3 separate regions of the Homo sapiens genome follow, and all the other regions are linked to region 1. The links come from fine-mapping of genetic effects on gene expression. Tissue or cell type: whole blood. Region 1 holds a variant in brackets; each other region holds the start of a gene. All regions are shown on one strand. Distances are between the middles of the regions.

Evidence for each region. PIP is the estimated chance that this variant, and not a neighbour inherited with it, causes the effect.
Region 2: ZNF692 starts here. The variant in region 1 is fine-mapped to the expression of ZNF692 in whole blood (TOPMed, PIP above 0.99).
Region 3: it holds the start of ZNF672, and the variant in region 1 is fine-mapped to the expression of ZNF672 in whole blood (TOPMed, PIP above 0.99).

Annotation. Positions count from the first base shown.
Region 1 is chr1:248,894,019-248,902,198 of GRCh38, reverse strand. It overlaps a transcript of PGBD2 not described here. Among named protein-coding and RNA genes, the nearest start is that of PGBD2, 8.1 kb to the left of the region's middle. RefSeq lists a silencer at 6,145-6,327. The variant C/T (reference allele first, on the strand shown) is at 4,692.
Region 2 is chr1:248,855,285-248,863,432 of GRCh38, reverse strand. It overlaps ZNF692 (zinc finger protein 692), which reads left to right and starts at 4,348. Exons shown (of 12, transcript NM_017865.4): 1 at 4,348-4,515; 2 at 5,112-5,302; 3 at 5,574-5,605; 4 at 5,936-6,199; 5 at 6,871-6,919; 6 at 7,011-7,145; 7 at 7,487-7,708; 8 at 7,798-7,875; 9 at 7,975-8,053. The coding sequence starts at 5,124. It overlaps ZNF692-DT (ZNF692 divergent transcript), which reads right to left and starts at 4,269. Exons shown (of 3, transcript NR_186117.1): 1 at 4,187-4,269; 2 at 646-804. RefSeq lists enhancers at 273-532, 3,864-4,013, 4,814-4,863, 5,464-5,543 and a silencer at 4,154-4,653.
Region 3 is chr1:248,834,346-248,842,525 of GRCh38, reverse strand. It overlaps ZNF672 (zinc finger protein 672), which reads right to left and starts at 4,302. Exons shown (of 4, transcript NM_024836.3): 1 at 3,975-4,302. RefSeq lists enhancers at 2,980-3,059, 3,400-3,669, 3,367-3,866, 3,867-4,368 and a silencer at 3,960-4,359.

The DNA.
Region 1 (8,180 bases):
CTCCTGGGTTCAAGCAATTCTCCTGCCTCAGCCTCCCAAGTAGCTAGGACTACAGGTGTGTGCCACCATGCCTGGCTATTTTTTGTAATGTTAGTAGAGATGGGGTTTCACCATGTTGGCCAGGCTGGTCATGAACTCCTAGTCTCAAGTGATCCGCTTGCCTTGGCCTCTGAAAATGCTGGGACCACAGGCATGAACCATTTCGTCCAGCCTTCATTATAGTTTTGATTTGCATTTCTCTAATGATCAATGATGTTTTTAATGGGGCTGTTTGTTTTTGTTCTTGTAAATTTGTTTTTATTCCTTGTAGACTCTGGATATCAGACCTTTGTCAAATGAATAGATTGCAAAATTTTTCTCCCATTCTGGAGGTTGTCTGTTCACTCTGATGATGGTTTGTGGTTTTTTTGCTTTGTTTTGTTTTTGCTGTGCAGAAGCTTTTTAGTTTAATTAGATCCCATTTGTCAGTTTTCACTTCTGTTGCAATGGCTTTTGGCGTTTTTGTGATAAAGGTTTTGCCCGTGTCTATGTCCTGAATGGTATTGCCTAGATTTTCTTCTGGGTTTTTATAGTTTTGGATTTTACATTTAAGCCTTTAATCCATCTTGAGTTATTTTTTGTATAAAGTGTAAGGATGGGGTCCAGTTTCAGTTTTCTGCATATGGCTAGCCAGTTTTCCCAGTACCATTTGTTAAATAGAGAATTATTTCTTCATTGCTTGTTTTTGTCAGGTTTATCAAAGATCAGATAGTTGTAGGTGTGCAGTCTTATTTCTGAGTTCTCTAGTCTGTTCCATTGATCTATGTGTCATTTTTGTACCAGTACCATGCTGTCTTGGTTACCATAGCCTTCTTATATAGTTTGAAGTCGGGTACCCTGATGCCTCCAGCTTTGCTCTTGTTGCTTTGGATTGTCTTGGCTATTAGGACTTTTTTTTGGTTCCATATGAAATTTAAAATATATTTTTTTATTTCTGTGAAAAATGTCCATAGCAATTTAATAGGAATAGCATTGAATCTATAAATTAGTTTGGGCAATATGGCCATTTTCACAATATTGATTCTTCCTATCCCTGAGCATGGAATGTTTTCCCATTTGTTTGTGTCCTCTCTGATTTCCTTGAGCAGTGGTTTGTAGCTCTCCTTGAAGAGGTCCTTCACTTCCCCTGTTAGCTTTATTCCTAGGTATTTTATTTTGTTTGTGGGCATTGCGAATGGGAGTTCATTCATGGTTTGGCTCTCTGCTTGTCTGTTCTTGGTACATAGGAATGCTTGTGATTTTCATACACTGACTTTGTATCCTGAGACTTTGCTAAAGTTCCTTATGAGCTTAACAAGCTTTTGGGCTGACCCAATGGGGTTTTCTAGATATATGATCATGTCACCTGCAAACAAAGATAATTTAACTTCCTCTCTTCTACTTGAATAACCTTTCTTTCTTTCTCTTGTCTGACTGCCCTGGCCAAAACTTCCAATACCATGTTGAATAGGAATAGTGAGAGAGGACATCCTTGTCTTGTGCCAGTTTTTAAAAAGATTCCTTCCACCTTTTGACCATTAAGTATGCTATTGACTGTGGGTTTGTCATCTATGGCTCTTATTATTTTGAGGTATTTTCTTCAATACTTAGTTTATTGAGAGTTTTTAACATGAAGGATGTTGGATTTTATCAAAGATCTTTTATGCTTCTATTGCGACAACCATGTGGTTTTTGTCTTTAGTTCTGTTTATGTGATGAATTACATACATTGATTTGTATATGTTGAACCAACCTTGCATCCTGGGGATGAAGACAACTTGATCATGGTGGATAAGCTTTTTGATGTGATGCTGGATTCAGCTTGCCAGTATTTTATTGAGTATTTTTTGGATTGATGTTCATCAGGGATACTGGCCTGATTTCTGTTTTTTTGTTGTTGTTGTATTTCTGCCAGGTCTTGGTATCAGGATGATGCTTTCCTCATAAAATGAATTAGGGAGGAGTCCCTCCTTTTCAATTGTTTGAAATAGTGTCAGAAGAAATGTTACCAGCTCCTCTTTACACCTCTGGTAGAATTAAGCTATAATCCTTCTGATCCTGGGCTTTTTTTTTTTTTTTTTTTGGTAGGCTATTTATTACTGCCTCAATTTCAGAACTCATTATTGGTCTATTCAGGGACTCAACTTCTTCCTGGTTCAGTCTTGGGAGGGTGTATATATCCAGCAATTTATCCATTTCTTCTAGATTTTGTAGTTTATTTGCATAGAGGTGTTTGTAGTATTTTCTGATGGTTGTTCATATTTCCATTGGCGTCAGTGGTGATATCCCCTTTATTGTTTCTAATTATATCTATTTGATTCTTCTCCTTCTTTTCTGTATTAGTGTAGCTAGTAGTCTATCTATTTTACTTTTTTTTTTTTTTCCCAAAAAAAACAGCTCCTGAATTTGCTGATTTTTTTAAGGGTTTTTGATGTCTCTATCACCTTTATTTCTACTCTGATCTTGGTTATTTCTTGTCTTCTGCTAGCTTTGGGGATAGTTTTTTATTTGTGATGTTAGGGTATTGACTTGAGCTCTTTCTGGCTTTTTGATGTGGGCATTTAGTACTATAAATTTTCCTCTTAACACTGCTTTCGCTGCATTCCAGAGATTCTGGTGTGTTGTCTCTTTGTTCTCATTGGCTTCAAAGAACTTCTTGATTTCTGCCTTATTATTTACCCAGGAGTCATTCAGGATCAGGTTTTTCAATTTCTACGTAGTGGTGTGGTTTTGAGTGAGTTTCTTAATCTTGAATTCTAATTTGATTGCACTGTGTTCTGAGAAACTGTTATGATTTCAGTTTTTTGCATTTGCTGAGGAGTGTTTTACTTCAGATTACATGTTCAACTATAGTAAGTTCTTTGTGGTGATGAGAAGAATGTATATTCTGTTGAATTTGGGTGGAGAGTTTTGTAGATATCTATAAGATCCACTTGATTCAGATCTGAGTTCAGGTCCTGAATATTTTTGTTAATTTTCTGTCTCTATAATCTGTCTAATATTGTCAGTGGGGTATTAAAGTCTCCCACTGTTATTGTAGGGGAGTCTAAGTTTCTCTGTAACTCTCTAAGAACTTGTTTTAAGAATGTGGGTGCCCCAGTATTGGGTGCATATATATTTAGGATAGTTAACTCCTCTTGTTTAATTGAACCCTTTACCATTATGTAATGCCCTTCTTTGTGTTTTTAATCTCTGTTGGTTTAAAGTCTGTTTTGTCAGAAACTACAAAAAAACCCTGCTTTTTTCTGTTTTCCATTTGCTTGGTAAATTTTCATCCATCCCTTTATTTTGAGCCTATTTGTGTCTCTGCATGTGAGATGGGTCTGTTGAATATAGCATACTGATGGGTCTTGACTCTATCCAGTTTGCCATTTTTTGTCCTTTAATTGGAGCATTTAGCCCATTTACATTTAAGGTTAATGTTTTTCTTTGTGAATTTGTTCCCGTCATCATGATGCTAGCTGGTTATTTTGTAGATTTGTTTATGTAGTTGCTTCATAGTGTTGTTGGTCTGTGTACTTCAGTGTGTTTTTGTAGTGGCTGGTAACGGTTTTTCCTTTCCATATTTAGTGCTTCCTTCAGGAGCTCCTGCCAGGCAGGCCTGGTGGTGATGAATTCCCTCAGCATTTGCTCATCTGAAAAGGGTCTTATTTCTTTTTTGCTTATAAAGCTTAGTGTGGCTGGATATGAAATTCTGGGTTTGAAATTCTTTTCTTTAAAAATGTTGAGCCAGGTGCGGTGGCTCACGCCTGTAATCCCAGCACTTTGGGAGGCCGAGGTGGGCGGATCATGAGGTCAGGAGAGCAAAGGTGGCAGCCTGCTCCTTCCCAGAGGAACATTGACCTGATTCAAGCCCAAATGCTGCTGGAGGTGTCTGGAGACCCCTGTTGGGAGGTCTCATTCAGTCAGGAGGGATAGGATTGGGGGGACCTGCTTGAAGAAGTAGTCTGGCTGCCCCTTGGTGGAGTTGGTACACTGTTGGGGAGAACCCCTGTCATCTGGACTGCCCAGACTCTCCAAAGCCAGCAGGCGGGAAAGGCTGTCGGCTGAACTGCAGAGACCATGGCTGCCCCTCCCCCAAGGGGCTGCATCCCAGGGAGATCAGAGTTCTGTCCATTAAACCCTGGCTGGAGTTGCTGAAATTCCCACAGGGAGGCCCCACCCAGTGAGGAGGAATGGGTCGGGGTCCCATGTAAAGAAGCAATCTGGCCACAACCTGCCGTAGCTGCTGAGCTCCACTGTGGGGAATCCCTCCCGGTCCAAACCACCCAGTCTCCCCAGCATTAGGAGGGCAAAATAGCCAACTGGAGCTGCAGAGATGGCAGCTGCCCCTTTCCCCAGGAACTCGGTCATCTCAGGCAGTCTCCAGTCGCTGCCACTGGCCCATGGGGATTTCTAAGCCAGTGGGTCTTAGCTGGTAAGGTTTTGTGGGAGTGGAGCCCACTGAAAGATGCCCCTTGGGTTCCTGGCTTCAGCCCCCTTCCTACAGGAACAGACAGATCTCCTGCCTCACAGGAATTTTCAAGCTTCAGCATGCAAAAACTCCTGCATCTCTGTGCCTTCCCGAGCAGCTGCTGACTGGAGTGGCCACCAGGTCTGCACAGCTCTGTGCCTGGGACCCAAGGCCCTGGTGGCATAGGCTCAAGAAGGAATCTCCTTGTTTGAAATGCTTG[C/T]TCCCCAGTGCCGTAAAGAAATAGCACTTGAACATACATTTAATTTACTCAGCAAGGCCATTTTTACTTACTGCAGAAAAGGTATGCTTGCCAGCAGTTTTGCCATGAGAGTACACCAAACAAAGAAGACAGGGTCATTTATAACCTGACGCATCCACCCTACTGCTGTGTCTGGTTTCCATCGGCTGGCACGGGACCTCACATCCTGTATTTGTTCCGATCGGCTAGCAACTTAGAACTTTCTTAAAGAGGCAAAGGTAGAGGGGAACAAAGGAAGGAGGAAGTAACTGGTGGAATGCTGAGAAAGGTAAAAAGCACCTTCACATAAGGAAGAGGAACAGGCTATCACCTAATGCTTGCTTGGACCAGCATAAGCATGCTAGGGCAAATATTTAGGCTAAATTGTGACATAAAGTACTTTGATTTCTTTACCACGGCTAGCAGATATTTAAGAATGTTAGCACAGGTCTTTGAATAAATTTTGCTTCTAAGAGAAGTTACTATTTATTCCTAATTAAATGGGGAGGAAAATCTTTGAAGAGGAACCTCTACTTTACTTTTTACATCCTGATCTATGGGTTGCAAAGATCCATGGGAAAAGTGTGATTTCCTGGGTGGGGTAGTGCAATCCCTCACGGCCTCCCTGGCCTGGGAGCGGGCGATCCCCTTGCTCCATGCAGCTCCCAGGTGGGCTGTCGCCCCACCTTGCTTTTCCTTGCTCTCCATGGGTCACTGCCTAGCCAGCATCCAATATCAACTGGATATCTCAGTTGAAGGTATAGAATGCACTTACCATTTTCATTCTTCTTGGTGAGCGCTGAAGACTGCAGCTGCTTCTAATCAGTAATTTTGTCCCTTCCCTCTAAAAGTTTTTTGTAGGAGGGAGGGGCCAAGATGGCCAATTAGAAGCAGCTGGAGCTATAGGTGTGCTGCTACTCAGGAGGCTGAGGCAGGAAGATTGCTTGAGCCCAGGAGCTTGAGGCTGCCGTGAGCTGTGATCGTGCCACTGCACTCCAACCTAGGTGACAGAGCAAGACCCCATCTCTAAAAGAAAAAGAATATCCATAAGGAATGATAAACGTATGCATGATTGTGAGAGTTAGAGTTTTCCAGATAAAGAGAACCAAGAGAATATATATATATATGTATATATGAAAAGATTTATGAGAAATTGGCTTATGGATTATGGAGACTAAGAGGTTTCAAAATCTGCTGTCTGCAAGCTGAAGACCCAGGAAAGCCAGTGTTGTAATTCCAATTTGAGTCAACGGCCTGAGAACCAGGGAGCCTATTTAAAACTGCATAAAACTGCAAGCCGTACATTTGCAGCAACTTGGATGGAGTTGAAGACCATTATTCTAAGTGAAGTAACTCAGGAATGGAAAATCAAATATTGTATGCTCTCACTTATAAGGGAGCTAAGCTATGAGGATGCAAAGGCATAAGAATGATATAATAGACTTCTGGGACTCGGGGCGGGGGAAGGGTCGGAGGGGCGTGATGGATAAAAGACTATACAGTGGGCCGGGTGCAGTAGCTCATGCCTGTAATCCCAGCACTTTGGGAGGCCGAGGTGAGCGGATCACAAGGTCAAGCGATCAAGACCATCCTGGCCAACATGGTGAAACCCTGTCTCTACTAAAAATACAAAAATTAGCTGGGCGTGGTGGCACGTGCCTGTAGTCCCAGCTGCTTGGGAGGCTGAGGCAAGAGAATCGCTTGAACCTGGGAGGCGGAAGTTGCAGTGAGCCAAGATCACGCCACTGCACTCCAGCCTGGTGACAGAGCAAGGTTCTGTCTAAAAACAAAACAAAACAAAAAAATCTATACATTGGGTACAGTGTACACTGCTCAGGTACCAAAATCTTAGTGCACCAAAATCTCAGAAATCCCACTAAAGAACTTATCCACGTAACCAAGAACCACCTGTTTCCTCCAAAATAATGAAGAAAAAAAAATACCCTGCAAGCCTTAAATATCATTAAGATATTTAATTCCTTAAATGTCTAACAGCACCAGACACGAGGATGATTATTGGATTGGGGAACAGAACAGGAGCCAATTCTTAAAGGTAGTCTTGCTTCCTTGAGCAGCAGAACCCTTGCTACTCAGACCTTCTTCCTCCTCTTTGTCCTTCCTCCTCTTTGTGTGCCAGGTTGGGCTGGCAGTATAGCCACAAATATGGGGGCTACTCACCACCAAAGAGGAGGCCTAGCACTCTGTGGGCAGGACTGGTCCCTGTGAAATCAGAGGAAAACCAGACTGTGGCCACAGTCACACTCCTCTGGCTTCTTTCTCTTTGTTAAGTTCCCAAACATTGGCCTGTTGTTGGTTGACCCAAAGACCACTCTCAGGTTCAATGACTGGCTGGAAGGACTTACAGAACTCAGAAAAGTTGTTATAGGCTGGGTGTGATGGCTCAAGCCTATAATTCCAACACTTTGGGAGGCTGAGTTGGGAGGATAGCTTGAGACTAGAAGTTAGAGACCAGCCTGGACAACATAGCAAGATCCCATCTCTAAAAAAATTAACAACAACAACAAAATAGCCAGATGCAGGCCATACACACCTGGAGTCCCAACTACTCAGGAGGCTGAGGCAGGAGGATCACATGAGCACAGGAGTTTGAGGTTGCAGTGAGCTATGATTGTGTCATTGCACTCCAGCCAGTGACAATCAGAGCGAGACCTCATCTAAGAAAGAAGAAAGAAAGAGAGAGAGAGAAAAGGAAGGAAGGAGAAGAGGAAGGGGAAGGGGAAGGAAGGAAAGGAAAGCAAGCAAGCAAGCAAGCAAGCAAGAAAGAAAGGAGGGAGGGAGGGAGGGAGGGAAGAAAGGGAAAAAGAAGAAAAAAGAAAATGTGTATATTCATTACAGTGAGTTTTGACTTATTAAAGTGAAAGAATACAGGTTAAAATCAGCAAAGGTACCCATGCATACATTGTCAGCTGATGTTTAACAAGAGTGCCATGAATACACAATAGGAAAATGATAGTCTCTTCAATAAATAGGGAAAATTGTATATCCACATCCAAAAGCATGTAATCGGAGTCTTGTCTTACACCATACACAAAAATTAACTCAAAATGGATTAACCACTAAAACGTAAGTTATATAACCCTAAAAATCCTAGAAGAAAACATAGAAGTAAAGCTCCTTGACTTTTCTAGGTCCAGGCAATGATTTCATATATCTGACAGCAAAAAGACAGGCAAAAAAAACCACAAAAAAAACCCAAAAATAGACAAGTGGGACTATATCAAACTAAAAAGTTTCAGCATTACAAAGGAAACAACCCATAAAATAAAAAGACAACCCAAAGAATGAGAGAAAATATTTTCAAAGAACATATCTGATGATGGGTTAATTTCCAACATAAGGAACTCCTATAAATAGCAAAAACAAAAATAACCTGATATAAAAATGAGCAAAGGACCTGAGTACACACATTTCTCCAAAGACCTACAAATGGCCAGGGCCAGCAGACATATA
Region 2 (8,148 bases), 39 kb after region 1:
AGGGAGGCCTTGGTCGGCAGCCACAGCCGGGCGGCAGAGGCTGCACCCGTGAGCGCGAAGGTCCCACCCTATCAACTCAGGAGGGGGCGGGGCTTCTGCCTGTTCCTGGCTCCACTCGCTTCATGGAGCGCTGCAGCCAGCATCACGGCAGTGGCCACCCTAGACGGGCTGCTGCTGCCATCAGCACAACCACAGCGAGGGTGGGCAGCTGCTGCTTCAGCACCAGGAGCAACATGTCGCTCCGCTGCCGGCGTCGCGGGCTCCGCCGCGTCAAGCACCCCTGCAGACGCTGAATTTACCACGGCGAGTCTCTTGGCGGCTGGCTTCCTCCTCCTTCATGTCGTCTGCCCTCCGGCCCGGAGCCAAAGCTAACAGGACCAACCCAGGCAGCTGGGCCAGCCAGGAGCAAGGGCAACCGCATCTCTTGTATACCACCCCACCCTACCTGGGCCACATGGCATCACAGAGCGCCCAGGTCAGCCGCACTAGGGCATGATCAGACTCAGGGTAGAGGCACCACCCTTCAGTTGTCAGGGGCTCAGGGGAAACGGAATTGCACTCCCAGCAATGATGACTAGTTGGAGGATGAAGACACCAGTCACTGAGAGGATGAGGGCTGAGAAAGAGGGAGGTTCATGCAAATACCTGGAGCTGGGCTGGGCTGAGGGTGTCTGTGGGTCTCGTGGAATTTGGGGTACAAAGTCCTGAAGGAGTGTTCCTTTTCCCACTGGGAATACATCTCAGGATTTGAGGGCAGTGGGTTGACTCAACTTCTGTAGCAATTTGGCTCATTCCTCCTTGGATCTGGAGAGTGGAAAGTAGTTTTTCTCTTTGGAGAGAAGATACTAAAAGTTCAGAGGGTACAGCAATATTAGATTTGGCTGTGCCAAAGCAGGAGATAAGAAGAGCGCTATGGTGCCATGCATAGTCCAGGAAAAATAAATGTTATGAAGATAAATATGTCCTCCACATGGACCCTTTTATGTGTATAAAAGAATTGGCAGTTTCAGCAGTCTGTAAACTGTAAAGCTCAACAGTGACAAAAATACAAATAGCTCACATTTAATCTTAGCCTTTGTAATGGGATGCTAAGATGGAATTCAAGGTCTCAGACTGCAATGAGGTCACTAAAGGCAGAGAACCAATGTTTACAGAGAACCCCTCCTTAAAATGTTAGCACTCCCTTGCAGCACTTACAAAGGAAGGGGCTGGTGACTGTTTTTGAGAGAGTTGGCTCATTCCTTACCTAGATGATATAAGAAATTAAAGAGAGGCTGAGAGATTTATTTGGAGACGGTTATTGAAGAGCTGGGCATTGGCAGTAATTTCATTTTATTATTTTAAACAAGATCAAACCAAGAGAACCAAAAATGTTCTTGGGTCTCAAAGTGAGACCCAACATTCTAAGAGTAACCAAGAATTACAAGACCTTTCATTCCCTTGGATGAAACCACAAGGATTTTGCAGATATCTATTAAGGGACCATGAGGAAAGGATAAAGTTTGTTCTCGATGGAGTCCTGCTCTTTTGATGTGAAAGTTACACTTTCATTAATGAGTAAAGTAGCTGGAAAAGTTACACATTCATTAATGAGTAAAGTAGCTGGGACATCTTCCTTCCTACCTTACACTAGTCAGACAAGTATGTTGAGTCACTGATACCACAAATCAAAAGGAATATGCACAGGACACACTGGGCTCATCCTAAGGGTGTTCATGTTTGCACACCATGTCATTTGAGATATTTAGGCTGCAGAGGAGAAGGCTGGGCTAGTCAACAATCATCGTATACCAATAACAAACACACAAACAAGTCCCTGAGATGATTTCAGAAAGTAAGTGCCATGAAGAAGATACAATAGGGCACAGTGAGGTAGAGCATGACTGAGGAAAGGGAGCTTTCTGAATGAGGGATTTTATAGCTGAGTGGGTGATCTTATAGCCGAGATTTACAAGATGAGAAGGGAGCAAACAGATGAACAGCTGGGTGGTGGGCTGGGGGATGGGGTGGGGGCTGAGGGGAGAATTGAGTGCTCCAGAGACAAAAGAACTCCCTCTAGGATACTTGGCACACTTGAGAAATAGCAAAAAGGTGGGAGGACAAAGTGGGAAAAGTTGGGGGATGATGCCAGAGAAGAAGCCAAGGGCCCAATTAAGTAGGTCCTTGAGGCCATGATAAGGATTTTGGATTGCACCACTCACAGATTTTAAGCAAAAGATTTGATCTTTGAGGAAATTTTCCCTGCTTTGTGAGAGTACAAGTTAAAGTAGGAGGCAGATCCATTAGGAAGATGTAGCCACAGACCAGGTGAGAGATGATAGTGGTATGGTAGGCTTAAAAATAGTCCCAGAAAAGATATCTGTGTCCTAATCCCCAAAACTTGTGGAGATTACTTTATTTTATTTTAGATGGAGTCTTGCTCTGTCACTCGGGCTGGTGTGCAGTGGTGCAATTTCGGTTCACTGCAACCTCCTCCTCCTGGGTTCAAGCAATTCTTCTGCCTCAGCCTCCCGAGTAGCTGGGATTATAGGCCCATGCCACCATGCCCAGCTAATTTTTTTTGTATTTTTAGTAGAGACAGGGTTTCACCATGTTGGGCAGGCACATCTCAAACTCCTGACCTCAAGTGATCCACCCGCCTTGGCCTCCCAAAGTGCTGGGATTACAGGCGTGAGCCACCGTGTGCAGCCGATTACTTTATATGGCAAATACTTTACAGAAGAAATTGTCTTAGGATACTGAGATGGAGAGATTATTTGGATTATAAGGATGGACTCTAAATGCATTCACAAGCATCCTTGTAAGAGAGAAGCAGAGGGAGATTTGACACAGAAGGAGGCAATGTGACCTCAGAGACAGAGATTGGAGTGACGTGGCCACAAGTCAGAGAATGCTGGCCACCATTAGAAGCTAGAAGAAGCAAGGAAAGGATTCTCCCCTAGAGCCCTTACAATGGCCTGTGGCCCTGCTGATGCCTTGGCCTCCAGAACTGTGAGAAAATAAATTTGAGTAAAGGGAGCAAGTTTGTGGCTGAAAACAACACACAACACAATTTGTTACAACAATTACAGAAAATTAATACCAGTGGCTTGGAGTAGGGTTTTAGCAGTTGAGAGGGTCAGAAGTGATTGGATTTAAGATAAATTTTTGGAGACAGGACCAACAAGATTTGCTGATGTATATGGTTTAGGTATCATAAAAGGCAAAGAATCAAGGCTGATTCCCTTTTTTCTGAACAAGTGGGTGGATGATGACATAGTTTACTGGCATGGGGGAGGGTACAGGCGTTATTGTTATATGTTTGCCATATTTATGTTGGAGAAAATATCAGCTATCATGTGTCAGCGCTCTCTACATGCCAGGCACTGTCCTACATTCTTTACACGTGTTAGCTCAGTTAACACATGTAAGTCAAGCGGGCAGTAAGATATATGACTGGAGTTGAAAGAGGGCTAGGCTAGGAGCCATCAGTGTATTTAAAGCCATGGAACTAATTAGATCACCCAGGAGAACATATGCAGACGAGAGAAGATCTGGTTCAAGGCCTGAGCCAGGGCACACTTCATCTTTTGGCAGAACAGAGGGAATGGATCCAAAAAAAGGATAGAAGGAGCCAGTGAGGAGGGTGGAAAACCTGGAGCATATGAAGTCACAGAAGTAAAACTGGGGCCCAAAATGTAGAGGGAGCCATAAAGATGAGGAGGACGAGAGCTACATAGTCGCGCTCTTTCTAGGGCAGAGAGGCGGACGGAACTGACAGCTGCTATGTAGCAATATGACCGTCTCAAGTGACCTTGTGAAGCGCCACTGCAGTGGCTGGGTGGGGAGGAAAGCTCCATCAGAGCCATTTGAAGAGAAGAGGATGGGAAGTGAGCGTACACAGAGAATGCAGGCAACTTTTAGGAGGAATTCTGATGGTAATAGAAGTGGGCTGTAGCTGGTGGGACTCTGCGGTCCACAGAGGGCTCTAGCTGGACCCTCTGTGGGTCTTTCAAAGTGACTGATTCTGCATCATGTTTGCGGGTGGCAACTGTGAGGGGGAAATCGAAGGTGAATACAAAACGGGAACAAGTGAAGAGGCAACGTCCCCATACAGGCCGGGTGGGCTGGGGTTGGAGCACAGGAGGCCTGACCCTGTCTCTTCCACTTTCCCTCAAACCTTTGGTCACCAAGCGCAGACGCTCACCACAGAAGCCACCCAACCACAACTGCCGCGGGGCTCCGCGACACGCGCGGGCGACTTGAGTCGGGCAACCACGATTCCCGGCGGGCGTTGCGCGGGGCACCCAGTGCGCAGGCGCACGGCGTCGGCCTCCGACTCGCCCCTCCCTCTGGGGCGCGGGCCTCAGTTCCGGGCTACAGCAGCCGACGCCGAGAGGCACCGTTTCTTCTTAAAAGAGAAACGCTGCGCGCGCGAGGTGGGCCCCTGTCTTCCAGCAGCTCCGGGCCTGCTCGCTAGGCCCGGGAGGCGCAGGCGCAGGCGCAGTGGGGGTGAGGGCGCGTGGGGGCGCACAGGTAAGGCCGGGGTGGGGGTGGGTCGCGACGGGGGCTCTGGGCAGCCTGGGAACTGCCATTGGGATTAGTCCGCTCCACTCACTGTCAGCATTAAGTGGGGGTGCCCAAGACGGGGTGGATGGGGGGCGCCCTCCAGACCTCTGACCACGGCCTCACCGCCACTCGACCCAACTATGAAGAGCGCCCCCAGCTGCACGCCAGGACACGACCTTTCCTTCCCCTAGAAACCAGTAAAGGCCGCTGCCCTATTCAAGATGAAATGTGTGGACCGCCCCCAGCCCAGTTGAAATTTCCCGTGAAAGTCTCTCGCCCCTTCCCCACAGCTCCACTTCAGTGGACTGGAGGGCGCAGGCCTTTGTTCTGACTGCTTCTGTCTGCCTGCCTCCCACCCGACGACACTCACATGGTAGCGCTGAGCTTCAACACCCTGTATCATAGAAGGACGGGGTTTGGCTCCACACCTGCCACTGCTATTGAAATAGTTTAGTCTTGCCCCAGTTCACTGATGAGGAAACTGAGGCCCTAACGGCAGGTGGAGCCGGGTCCCCGACCCCCGAGATCGGCAGGGCGCTGAAGACGTCCCTTCCACCCTCCAGCCTCTGGTGCACATGGCTTCCTCCCCGGCGGTGGACGTGTCCTGCAGGCGGCGGGAGAAGCGGCGGCAGCTGGACGCGCGCCGCAGCAAGTGCCGCATCCGCCTGGGCGGCCACATGGAGCAGTGGTGCCTCCTCAAGGAGCGGCTGGGCTTCTCCCTGCACTCGCAGCTCGCCAAGTTCCTGTTGGACCGGTTAGGGGCCGGGAGAAGGGCTTGGGGGAGGGTACCCAGGCAGCAGCCCCTAGCCTCCTCTCCAGGGCCTGTCCTGCTGCTCTTTTCCACCCTCAGGTTTCTCACTTTACCAGGACGGCCTGTGTGACTTGTGGCCTCCGAGGGTCCTGCTCCCCTCCTCATGGTCTCAGCGAATAGCGGCCCTTAGGGCTGGCCCCTTACATGTGTGAGTGCCCAGGGCTGAGGGTGGCTGGCCACCTGAGTCCTGACCTGCCTCTTCTCCTGCTGGCAGGTACACTTCTTCAGGCTGTGTCCTCTGTGCAGGTAGGTAGGGGATGGCAGGGGGTGAGAGCCAGAGGGAAGAGGGACCACAGGGTGACCCAGAAACACCCTCCTTTCAAAGGGAGCCCTGAGTAAGTTTGGGAAGGGTGGGGTGAGTTGGGGAGCACAGGGTAGTTTGATGGAGGCAACCTCTGGGTGGGGAAGGGAGCAATGTCTCAGGATCTAGTGTGTCTAGGTTCTGAAGAATGATAAATTGGACTGGGGCTGAGGTTGCCCTGGGGTTTGAGGGAACAGGGCTCCCTGGGTATGGCTCTCCAGGGTAAGAGGAGGAGACTTCCCAGTTCAGCCTGACTGCTTCCCCCACCCCTCCAGGTCCTGAGCCTTTGCCTCCAAAAGGTCTGCAGTATCTGGTGCTCTTGTCTCATGCCCACAGCCGAGAGTGCAGCCTGGTGCCCGGGCTTCGGGGGCCTGGCGGCCAAGATGGGGGGCTTGTGTGGGAGTGCTCAGCAGGCCATACCTTCTCCTGGGGACCCTCTTTGAGCCCTACACCTTCAGAGGCACCCAAGCCAGCCTCCCTTCCACATACTACTCGGAGAAGTTGGTGTTCCGAGGCCACGAGTGGGCAGGAGCTTGCAGGTAGGCTGGAAAAAAGCAGAGTTATGGAGAAAAGGGAGGAAAAACGTTTCCCATTTTCTGTAGCTCAGAACCCTGTTCTCTAAAAATGATCCTTTTTCAATGGAAAAACTCTATCTTGACAAATATATCATCAAATACACTGTTGGGCATGAAAAGCAAAACAAAATACAGTGTATGGTATGCTATCATTGGTGAAAAATACAAATAAGGGGAAAGTGAATGTGTGTGTGTGTATGTGTAAGTACTTGCGAATGTATGACATATCTCTGGAAGGCACATAGAAAACCAGGTTGCCTATGGGAAGAAGTAGGCGATGGGGGACAGTATTGGAAAGGAGATTTTTGACTGTATAGTTTTGTGAACTATGTGAATATCATCTCTGAAACAGAACAACTCCTCCTACTCAGATAGCCTCTGCTCCCTCCTCCTCCTTCTTAAAAGTCTCTGCCTGGGTGCAGTGGTTCACACCTATAATCCTAGCACTCTGGGAGGCTGAGGCAAGAGGATTGCTTGAGCCCAGGGGTTTGAGACCAGCCTGGGCAACATAGTGAGACCCCGTCTCTATTTAAAAAAAAAAGAGGAGTCTCCCATCACTTCAGACCTTAGAACTTTATGTGTCCTCATCCCTTGAGTCCAGAGTTCCTTCTCTTTTGACTTTGCCTGTCCCACAGATTTGGAATCTGAGCATGATGAGAGGACTCAAGAGGCCAGGTTGCCCAGGTGAGGATGTGGATAGGAGAGAAAAGGCGGAATTGCATAGGTGGGAGGATGAGGGAGCAGGACCTCAGGCTTGCCTTCTTTGGGCCTGCAGGAGGGTGGGACCCCCACCAGAGACCTTCCCACCTCCAGGAGAGGAAGAGGGTGAGGAAGAAGAGGACAATGATGAGGATGAAGAGGAGATGCTCAGTGATGCCAGCTTATGGACCTACAGCTCCTCCCCAGATGAGCAAGTTGGGGTTGAGGGAGAATGAGCAGAGCAAGAGAGGGAGGCAGCTGGCCTGGCAGTTCATGGCTTTGCAGACTAGAGGGAAGGGCTTGTTAGTGTGGAGGGAAGGGTGGGTTTTGGGGAAGGCAAAAAGAACTAGAGGCTTTGAACTGAGGGGGTGAAAAGGGGTGAAGTCAGGTGCAGGGAGATTGAGGGCTGAAAGCAGATATGAATGGGGAGCCTAGGGTGGGGGTAGGGTTGTTTCAAGTTTGAGATCTTTTCAGTTTAGGGGCTAGGGTCGGGCAGGGGATGGCTGACTGCCCAGAAAGTTAATGCCATCTTCCTCTTTGTTCTCCTTTCAGTAGTGAGCCTGATGCCCCCAGACTACTGCCTTCCCCTGTCACCTGCACACCTAAAGAGGGGGAGACACCACCAGCCCCTGCAGCACTCTCCAGTCCTCTTGCTGTGCCGGCCTTGTCAGCATCCTCATTGAGTTCCAGAGCTCCTCCACCTGCAGAAGTCAGGGTGCAGCCACAGCTCAGCAGGACCCCTCAAGCGGCCCAGCAGACTGAGGCCCTGGCCAGGTAACCTGATGGCTGAGACAGAAAGGGCAGGGGCGTCCTGGGATGTGGCCCTCCCTCGAGGCCCTCTGCTCCCTCTTTGCTGCCCGTAGCACTGGGAGTCAGGCCCAGTCTGCTCCAACCCCGGCCTGGGATGAGGACACTGCACAAATTGGCCCCAAGAGAATTAGGTAGGACTTAGGGAGATGGGGTTCTGGGGAGGGCCGAGAGGAGGGAGGCAGAGAAGGGCAGGCAGGAGTCATGCTGCTCCTTTCCATTCTTCTCCTCAGGAAAGCTGCCAAAAGAGAGCTGATGCCTTGTGACTTCCCTGGCTGTGGAAGGATCTTCTCCAACCGGCAGTATTTGAATGTGAGGGGCACAGGTTGGGGCCTGTGTGGCTGCTGGGGTGGGGGAAAGGGCTAAAAGAAAAACTGAGGAAAAGGATCTTAAGGCATGGGAGGATT
Region 3 (8,180 bases), 60 kb after region 1:
CCTCGTACTCATTGCTCAGCTTTATTCTCCCTGATCTCGGGTGCTGTGGCCACTCTGGGCTTCAGCGTGGGCTATCCTGTCTCAAAGGGACAGGATAAACTCCCACTATGTATGTTCTCTCCCTGTTCACATCCATACCTTCTCCACACTCCCCAGATTTCACAGGAAAATCTTTGTGAAACCAAAACTTTCAAAAGAATGTATCTGGATCACGATCAGACTTAGGCACTTGGGGTAGGAGCGAACTGTTATTCCTGTTTCCACCAGCTCCTTAGACATGTCCGACTGAATCTGAAGCTGGAAGGAGCATCTATTAGTCAGTGAATGTAACAGGAAGCAGGGATTCCTCTCCACTCTGGACAGACTTCAGCCCTATTCTAGGAGGTGCGGATGGGGAACGGAATTCAGAGCACCAGAATTGCCCCTCCTTGCTTCCTTCCCCCATAAAGAAACAAAATCCAATACTTCAAAAGAAGTTGCTCCTTCCAGCTTCAGATTCAGTCTCTAGCTAAGGAGCTGGTGGAAATAGGAATGACAGTTTGCTCTCAGCCCAAGTGCTCAAGTCTGATCATGAGCCAACACATTCTTTTTATTTTGGAGGCAGAGTCTCACTCTGTCTCCCAGGCTAAAGTGCAGTGGCGCCATCTCAGTGTGATCTCGGCTCACTGCAACCTCTGCCTCCGAGGTTCAAGCGATTCTTGCGCTTCAGCCTCCCAAGCAGCTGGGATTACAGGCTCGAGCTACCACAGCTAATTTTTGTATTTTTAGCAGACACGGGGTTTTGCCATGTTGCCCAGGCTGGTCTTGAACTCCTGGCCTCAGTTGATCCTCCTGCTTCAGCCTCCCAAAGTGCTGGCATTACAGGTGTGAGCCACCGTGCCGAGCCCAAATATATTCTTTTGAAAGTTTTGGTTTCACAAAGATTTTCCTGTGAAATCTGGGAAGTATAGAGAAGGTATGGATGTAGACAAGGAGAGAACATACATAGTGGGAGCTTGCCCTGTCCTTTTGAGACACAGGCAACAGGATGTAGGCAAGGAGAGAACATACATAGTGGGAGCTTGTCCTGTCCTTCTGAGACACAGGCAACAGGATGTAGACAAGGAGAGAACATACATAGTGGGAGCTTGTCCTGTCCTTCTGAGACACAGGCAACATTGAAGCCCAGAGTGGCCAGAGCCCCCCAGATCAGAGAGAAAGGACTATAAGGTCTTTCACACCTTCCCTGGGCCTAGCAAGGACTTGGGCACACAGAAGATACTCAGTGCTTTTTAAAAGTGATGTATTAGTCTGGAATCCAATTTTCCCAAATGTTAGGTCCCTGGAGGAAAGGGCCTGACTACAGTCATCATATCCTCCACAGCACTACCCACTGCATACAAATACTCTGACTACAGTCATCGTACCCTCCACAGCACTACCCACTGCACATACAAGTACTCTGACTACAGTCATCATATCCTCCACAGCACTGCCCACTGCACATACAAATACTCTGACTACAGTCATCGTACCCTGAACGGCACTGCCCACTGCACATACAAATACTATGACTACAGTCATCGTACCCTCCACAGCACTACCCACTGCACATACAAATACTCTGACTACAGTCATCATATCCTCCACAGCACTACCCACTGCATATACAAGTACTCTGACTGCAGTCATCATATCCTCCACAGCACTACCCACTGCACATACAAATACTCTGACTACAGTCATCGTACCCTGAACGGCACTGCCCACTGCACATACAAATACTATGACTACAGTCATCGTACCCTCCATGGCACTACCCACTGCATATACAAATACTCTGACTACAGTCATCATATCCTCCACAGCACTACCCACTGCATATACAAGTACTCTGACTGCAGTCATCATATCCTCCACAGCACTATCCACTGCACATACAAATACTCTGACTACAGTCATCATATCCTCCACAGCACTGTGCACTGCACATACAAATATTCTGCTTTGGTTTACTAGTTGAGCCTGCAACCTGTGTAGCAGAACCAGAGAGGCATCCAAATTCTGGTTCCTCCCATTACTAGCTGTCTGATCTTAGACAGTAGACTTGGAATGTCTGATCCTCCTGGATGGGAAAACTTTAGTAAAGAAAGTTGGCCAGGCACGGTGGCTCACGCCTGTAATCCTAGCACTTTGGGAGGCCGGGGTGGGCAGATCACCTGAGGTCAGGAGTTCGAGACCAGCCTGGCCAATATGGTGAAACCCCGTCTCTACTAAAAATACAAAAAAGTAGCCAGGCATGGTGGCACGCGCCTGTAGTATTGGCTAACTCGGGAGGCTGAAGCAGGAGAATCGCTTGAACCCGAGAAGCAGAGGTTGCAGTGAGCCGAGATAGTGCCACTGTACTCCAGCCTGGGCGACAGAGTGAGACTCCATCTCAAAAAAATAAATTAAAAAAAGCTATTATTATAGTGTTTCATATGGAAAGGTCAAAATATTGCTAAATCTTGCCGGGCATGGTGGCTCACGTCTGTAATCCCAGCACTTTGGGAGGCCAAGGCGGGCGGATCACTTGAGGTCAGGAGCTCGAGACCAGCCTGGCCAACACAGTGAAACCCTGTCTCTACGAAAAATACAAAAATCAGCCAGGTGTGGTGGCGCCCGTCTGTAGTCTCAGCTACTGGGAAGGGTGAGGTGGGAGGATCACTTGAGGCCAGGAGGCGGAGGTTGCAGCGAGCCGAGATCGCGCCACTGTACTCCAGCCTGGACGACAGAGCAAGACTCCGTCTCAAAAAAAAAAAAAAAAAAAAAAAATTGCTAACACTGAGAATTGCGGTTGCCCGGTGCTTAGGATTTACTCTGCCTAGGACAGTCCTTCTTGTTGTTGTTGTTTGTTTGTTTTTTGAGACAGGGTCTTGCTGTCACCCAGCTTGGAATGCAGTGATTTGATCACTGTCTCACTGCAGCCTCGCCCTCCTGGACTCAAGCAACCCTCCAGCCTCAGCCTCCTGCGGAGCTGGGACTATGAGCAGGTGCTACCACACCCGGCTAATTATTATTATCATTATTTTTTTTGTAGAGACGAGGGTTCTCACCATGTTGCCCAGGCTGGTCTTGAACTCCCGAGCTCAAGAGAGCCTCCCACTTTGGCCTCCCAAAGTGCTAGGATAACAGGCATGAGCCACTGTGCCCGGCCCTGGGCAGTTCTTAAGAGCGACTCTGAGTAAGGGGCTTAACTCCTGTCTCCACTCCAGGCATCCTAAACGGTCTGCAGCCGTTTTCAGTCCTTCCCCCTCAACCCCTAAGAATCCCTCACATGATTAGAACAGCACAGCATGGGCCTTCCATAGCTCCACTTGCGCGAACTGTGGGCTCCAAGATGAAAGAAGGGAAGCTGGCTACTCATCTGGGGACTTGGTGCCTGGTACTTAAGAGCGAAGCACAACTATTCGCCGAATGCGGAACACGGCACCTGAACAGGTCGCTTTCCGTGGCCCACAGCAGCGCAGCCAATCCTGGGGCGCCTCAGTCGGCGCGCGTCACAAGTTGCTGGGCAAACTTTCTTTGAGCGAGCCCCTTCCCAACCCCGAGCCTACCCTAGCCCCTTGCCCGTGGCGCCAGCCGACTTGGAGGGCGAGACCGGGCACCAAAAACGTAGTGGGGAACGTTTAACGCTGCCAGAACCCGGTGGCGGCCGTTGCCCCCTTAAGTCGGCTCAGCCTGGCGACGTTTGTCGTGGTGACGCCAGCCCCGAAAAGGTCACCCGAGGCGGACCAGCGAGGACAGGCGGAGGGGAAGGCCTGGGAGGAGCAGGCCGCGCGGACGTGTCCGGCCAATCGCTCGCCCCGCAGTATCCCCGCGTCACTCGCAGCCCGGGCGGCGCTCCCGACCGCCGCAGACACCAGTCGCCCGAGGCAGATGGGAGAAGACTAGCCACAGCTGAGGACTGCTGCCCCGAGCCACCCTTGCCCTCCCCTGCCCTTCAGTCCCCTCACCGGTCGCCGACTGCCTCCTCAGACACCGCGCGGTTCCCACTCAGCCGGCTGCCGACCCCCGCCTCCCGGACTGCGGGACTGGGGCGGGGGAGCGAGGAAGGGGCTAACGGCGCGCGCGGCCTCCGAGTGGGGGGAGCGGGGAGGCGCCCGAGCGTCCGGCCCCTCGGGATGGGGAGGTCACGCTCCTGTCCCTCTCGCCCGCGTCGGCTAGTGGTCAGTCTGGCGCGGGCAGTGTCACCGGTTGCTGGGAAGACTGGGAGGCCAGCGAGCAGCGTACCAACCACTCAGCCTCTCCGGCCCCAGCTGGAGCCGGGAAGCAGGCGGGGCTAAAAGAGAAAGCCTGCGGGGGGACTCCACTCCCGCCTCCCGCGCGGGCCAAGGCCCCGCCCTCTCTTCTGGCTTAACCAATTCCTGCCTCCCGCTTTGTCTGTTGGCCCACCCCTGGGCCTCGTCCCGCCCAATCAGAGGAAAGGGCGCCGATCCCTGCGCGCGCCTCAGCCCCCAGCCGCGGAGTCCCGGGAGCTAGGCGGTCCACCGTCTAGTCTTCCAGCAGCTCTTCCCGCGGCCGCTGGCGGGACACAGACAGGTGTACCCTTCGGTGCTTCCGGCGCGGTAGCCGGTGCCCGGCGCGGACGGGGCCGCGGCAGCCATCCCCGTAGTTAAGTTAGCGCCTTCTTATTAAGTGAGGCCAGACTGGATAGCTATTATCTCTCAACCCTCACCACAACCCTGCCAGGGGAAATATGAGCATTTATCCTGTATTTTAGGTAAGGACCCCACAAGTTAATGATACGCCCAAAGTCGCAATGCCAGGGATAGGGGTTACTCCTGGTCGGCTTGCCAGCTGCCTCTCCATGAGCTTCCTGGTTGAACTGCCTGTCCAAATGTTGACCCTAATGTCTTCTACTAGGAAATGCTACTAGTATTCCTTTCCGGAAATGCATTTTGGGAACCTGGCCATCCTTTAGTGTGCCTATATCATCAGAACAGACGCCCAGGGATGGCCCTCAAGGTCCTTTACTGCTGTAATCTTCCTTTGGAGGTCACTTAGTACCACTCTTCTGAGCTCTGCTCAGGGGGTCCCCTAATTAGTGTACTTCGACCTGCCATGCTTGGCCTGGAAAACTCTTACCCTCTTCTCTGTTTTAATTTGTAAAACCTTAGTCAAATGCCATCTCCATAAACCTATGCTAGAATGCCCCTCTCTGTCCTCAGTCCTGGGGACATATCTATGCTGCAGCGCAACCTCCCGCATGTTGATACTGTTGTTATAGTCAGATGAATACTGTTCCCCCATAGCTTAAGGGACAGGCCTTGTCCTACTCATGAACAATTGATCCCTTGAAGCATGAGCAGAGGGCCAGCACGCCACAGATGATCAATGAGTGTTTGCTGACCCGCATATGACAACACGGATTAAGGAAGACAAATCTGGTAGCAGCAGGCAAGAAAGCTGAAAAGCAAGACACAGGATGCAGGTCTGGAGTGATCAGGGCCTGAACCAGGAAGGGATAACATTGAGAGAGACATGGAAAATGCGCTTGAAGTATATATATTTTTATTGTAAAGAATCATACACAGATAAGGTAGTATTATATAGAGAATGATTAGTTGAGGATATTTCCAGAGTCTTTAAGCCAGAGAAATGTACTAATTTAGACATTTCTGGACTCATTGCTCAGTACTGATGTCATGTTTTTAAGGACACTGACACACTTGGCTAATCCCAGAGACATGAAGAGGATGGTGACTAGGGTGGTCACATAATTAAAGGGGCTGGGGATATTTAACCTAGAAAGAGAAACATTTTTTGTGCACATAATGACTGTACACAAATTCTAACAAACTTTCATGTGAAAGAGGACTGGATTAGATGACTTTCTTCTGTGTAGCTTTGGAGGGAAAAACTCAAACAATGGGGGGAAAGAACAGGAAGCTGGATTTAGGTTTCCTATGTTATGGAAGTCATCACAGTGGGGGATGATAATTGTAACAGGAAGATGGAGGGTAGTGAAAGAAAGTTCAAGGATGAAGTTATGTGTATATTTGTCAATTAAAAATATCACATCCAAATGGTTTTATTTCTCTACACATCTACATCAATAAATGACAACTCTTAATGTGGTTCTGTAAATACTCAAAATGTTTATGGAAGGTCTACTATATGCCAGGTAGTATTCTAGACGTTGGAGATAACAGCTGTGAACCTACCAGATGAATCTCCCCAAAGTTCTGATTGTATCACATTCCTGCTCAGTAATAGTCAAAAAAGTCTGTACAATCACCAAATGAAGTTTACTCTTCTGGTGTAATATTCAAGACCCTCTTTCACCTATTCCAACCTGTCTTTCCAGTCTGTTCTCTTAAACTCTCCATTAAACTGGATCACTCCCCACCTACCTTCTACGTTTCTCTCAGCTTGGCATACACTTCTCCTGTTCCTTCACTTTTTCTTGTCTACCAAAGTCCTACTTATCCTTCAGACTTCTGTTCAAACACCAACCCACTCTCAAAGTGAAAACTATCTTCTTTCTGAAGACCACTAGTATTGTTCACCCAGAAATTCCCTAAGTATTTATTATCTTTGCAAGCCACAAGATGCATAAGACACTTACTCTGTTATTTACATCCTTTACCATGTACTTCAAGATAGAGTGTTGCTCTGTCACGCAGGCTGGAGTGCAGTGGCATGATCTCGGCCCACTGAAGCCGCTTCCCAGGTTCAAGTGATTCTTGTGTGTCAGCATCCCAAAGAGCTGGGACTACAGGCACGCACCAACATGCCTGGCTAATTTTTGTAATTTTAGTACACATGGGGTTTCACCATGTTGCTCAGGCTGGTCTTGAACTCCTGGCCTCAAGTGATCTGCTGTGTTCGGCCTCCAAAAGTGCTAGGATTACAGGCAAGAGCCAACATGCCTGGCCACCATGTACTTTAGAATAATGTGCATACTTTATTTCTCCTACTAAATTATAAGCTTGAGGGCAGAGTCAGAGGCTGGATGCACATTTCTGAACACCTGCTATGTGCAAAGAAATGGGCTGAGTATCGGAGACAAAATGGAGACTGAGTCCTTTGAGGACATGCTGAGGGATGGCAACCGCTCCCCCCGCCCACAGACCTTGCCATCCCATCATGTGCAAAGTACAAAGTGGTATAAAGGTACAACAGGAAGAATAGGGTAATTCTGCAATAGGTCATCAGTAAACTTCATTGGCTCAGCATGTAGCCAAGATTTTGTATAGGGATCTGTGGATGGAGGTGACAATGATTTTCACCTCCCACCACACACCCCCAGTGGCAGATTTCTGCAATATAAGTGATGGGACTGGGTCAGGCAGAGGGATTAGATGAACAGGAAGGGAGTGAGCATGCACTCAATCCAGACTGAGTGAGTGGAGGAGGCTCAGAATCCTGTGGAAGATGCTGAGTGGGGTGGGACAGGAATTCAAGAAGGTAGAGTGGGTGAAGGTATTGGAAGAGGAAATGCAAATAAGTTTTGGGCTAAATCAAGGAATTCCTCCTTTTCAGAAGCTTTTATTGAGGACCCACTGAGTCTGCACCTGGCTGGGTAATAGAAATATAGAGATGAATAAATTATGTTCCTTTACAGTATAGAGTCTATCCCATACCCAAGGGTGTAGGCCTCCCTCAGTGAGAAGAGGAGGAGCCATGGTGTATCAGGATTTGTAAAGACTAGGAAGTTAGAGGCGAATACGCGAAGCCGTGGGCGTGGATGACATTTCTAAGAGGCTATAGGTGGATTAGTAGGGGCTGAAGGCACCATACCTAGAGCACCAGCCTCCAAAAGGAAGCAGCTGCAGAAGGGGAAGCCAGTAAAGGCTTTGGGGAGGAAGAAGGTCAGGACACGGTCAGGTTTTAGATTCCCATGTGAGGAAGTGGTGGACAATGTCCAATGCTGAAGTAAGTCAAACAGCATCAAGGTGGTTATGTTTGGCTAGAGGGCACTGTCAGTGGTTTATGAAGTGAGACAGAAAGGAAGGGAAGTAAAAGTTATAGGCATGCAGAGCAGGCACATAGTACATGGCTTACGTTGCTGTTGGGGGCAACTGAAAGGCAAGTAAGTAGGGCTAAGGTATAGACCACTATTTCAAATCCCTGTCTGAAATGTGAGCCCAGTGGATATTCACAATGCCAAAAATCAGATGCTGAAGGCTTACTGTGTTACTGGGGGTATAAGGACT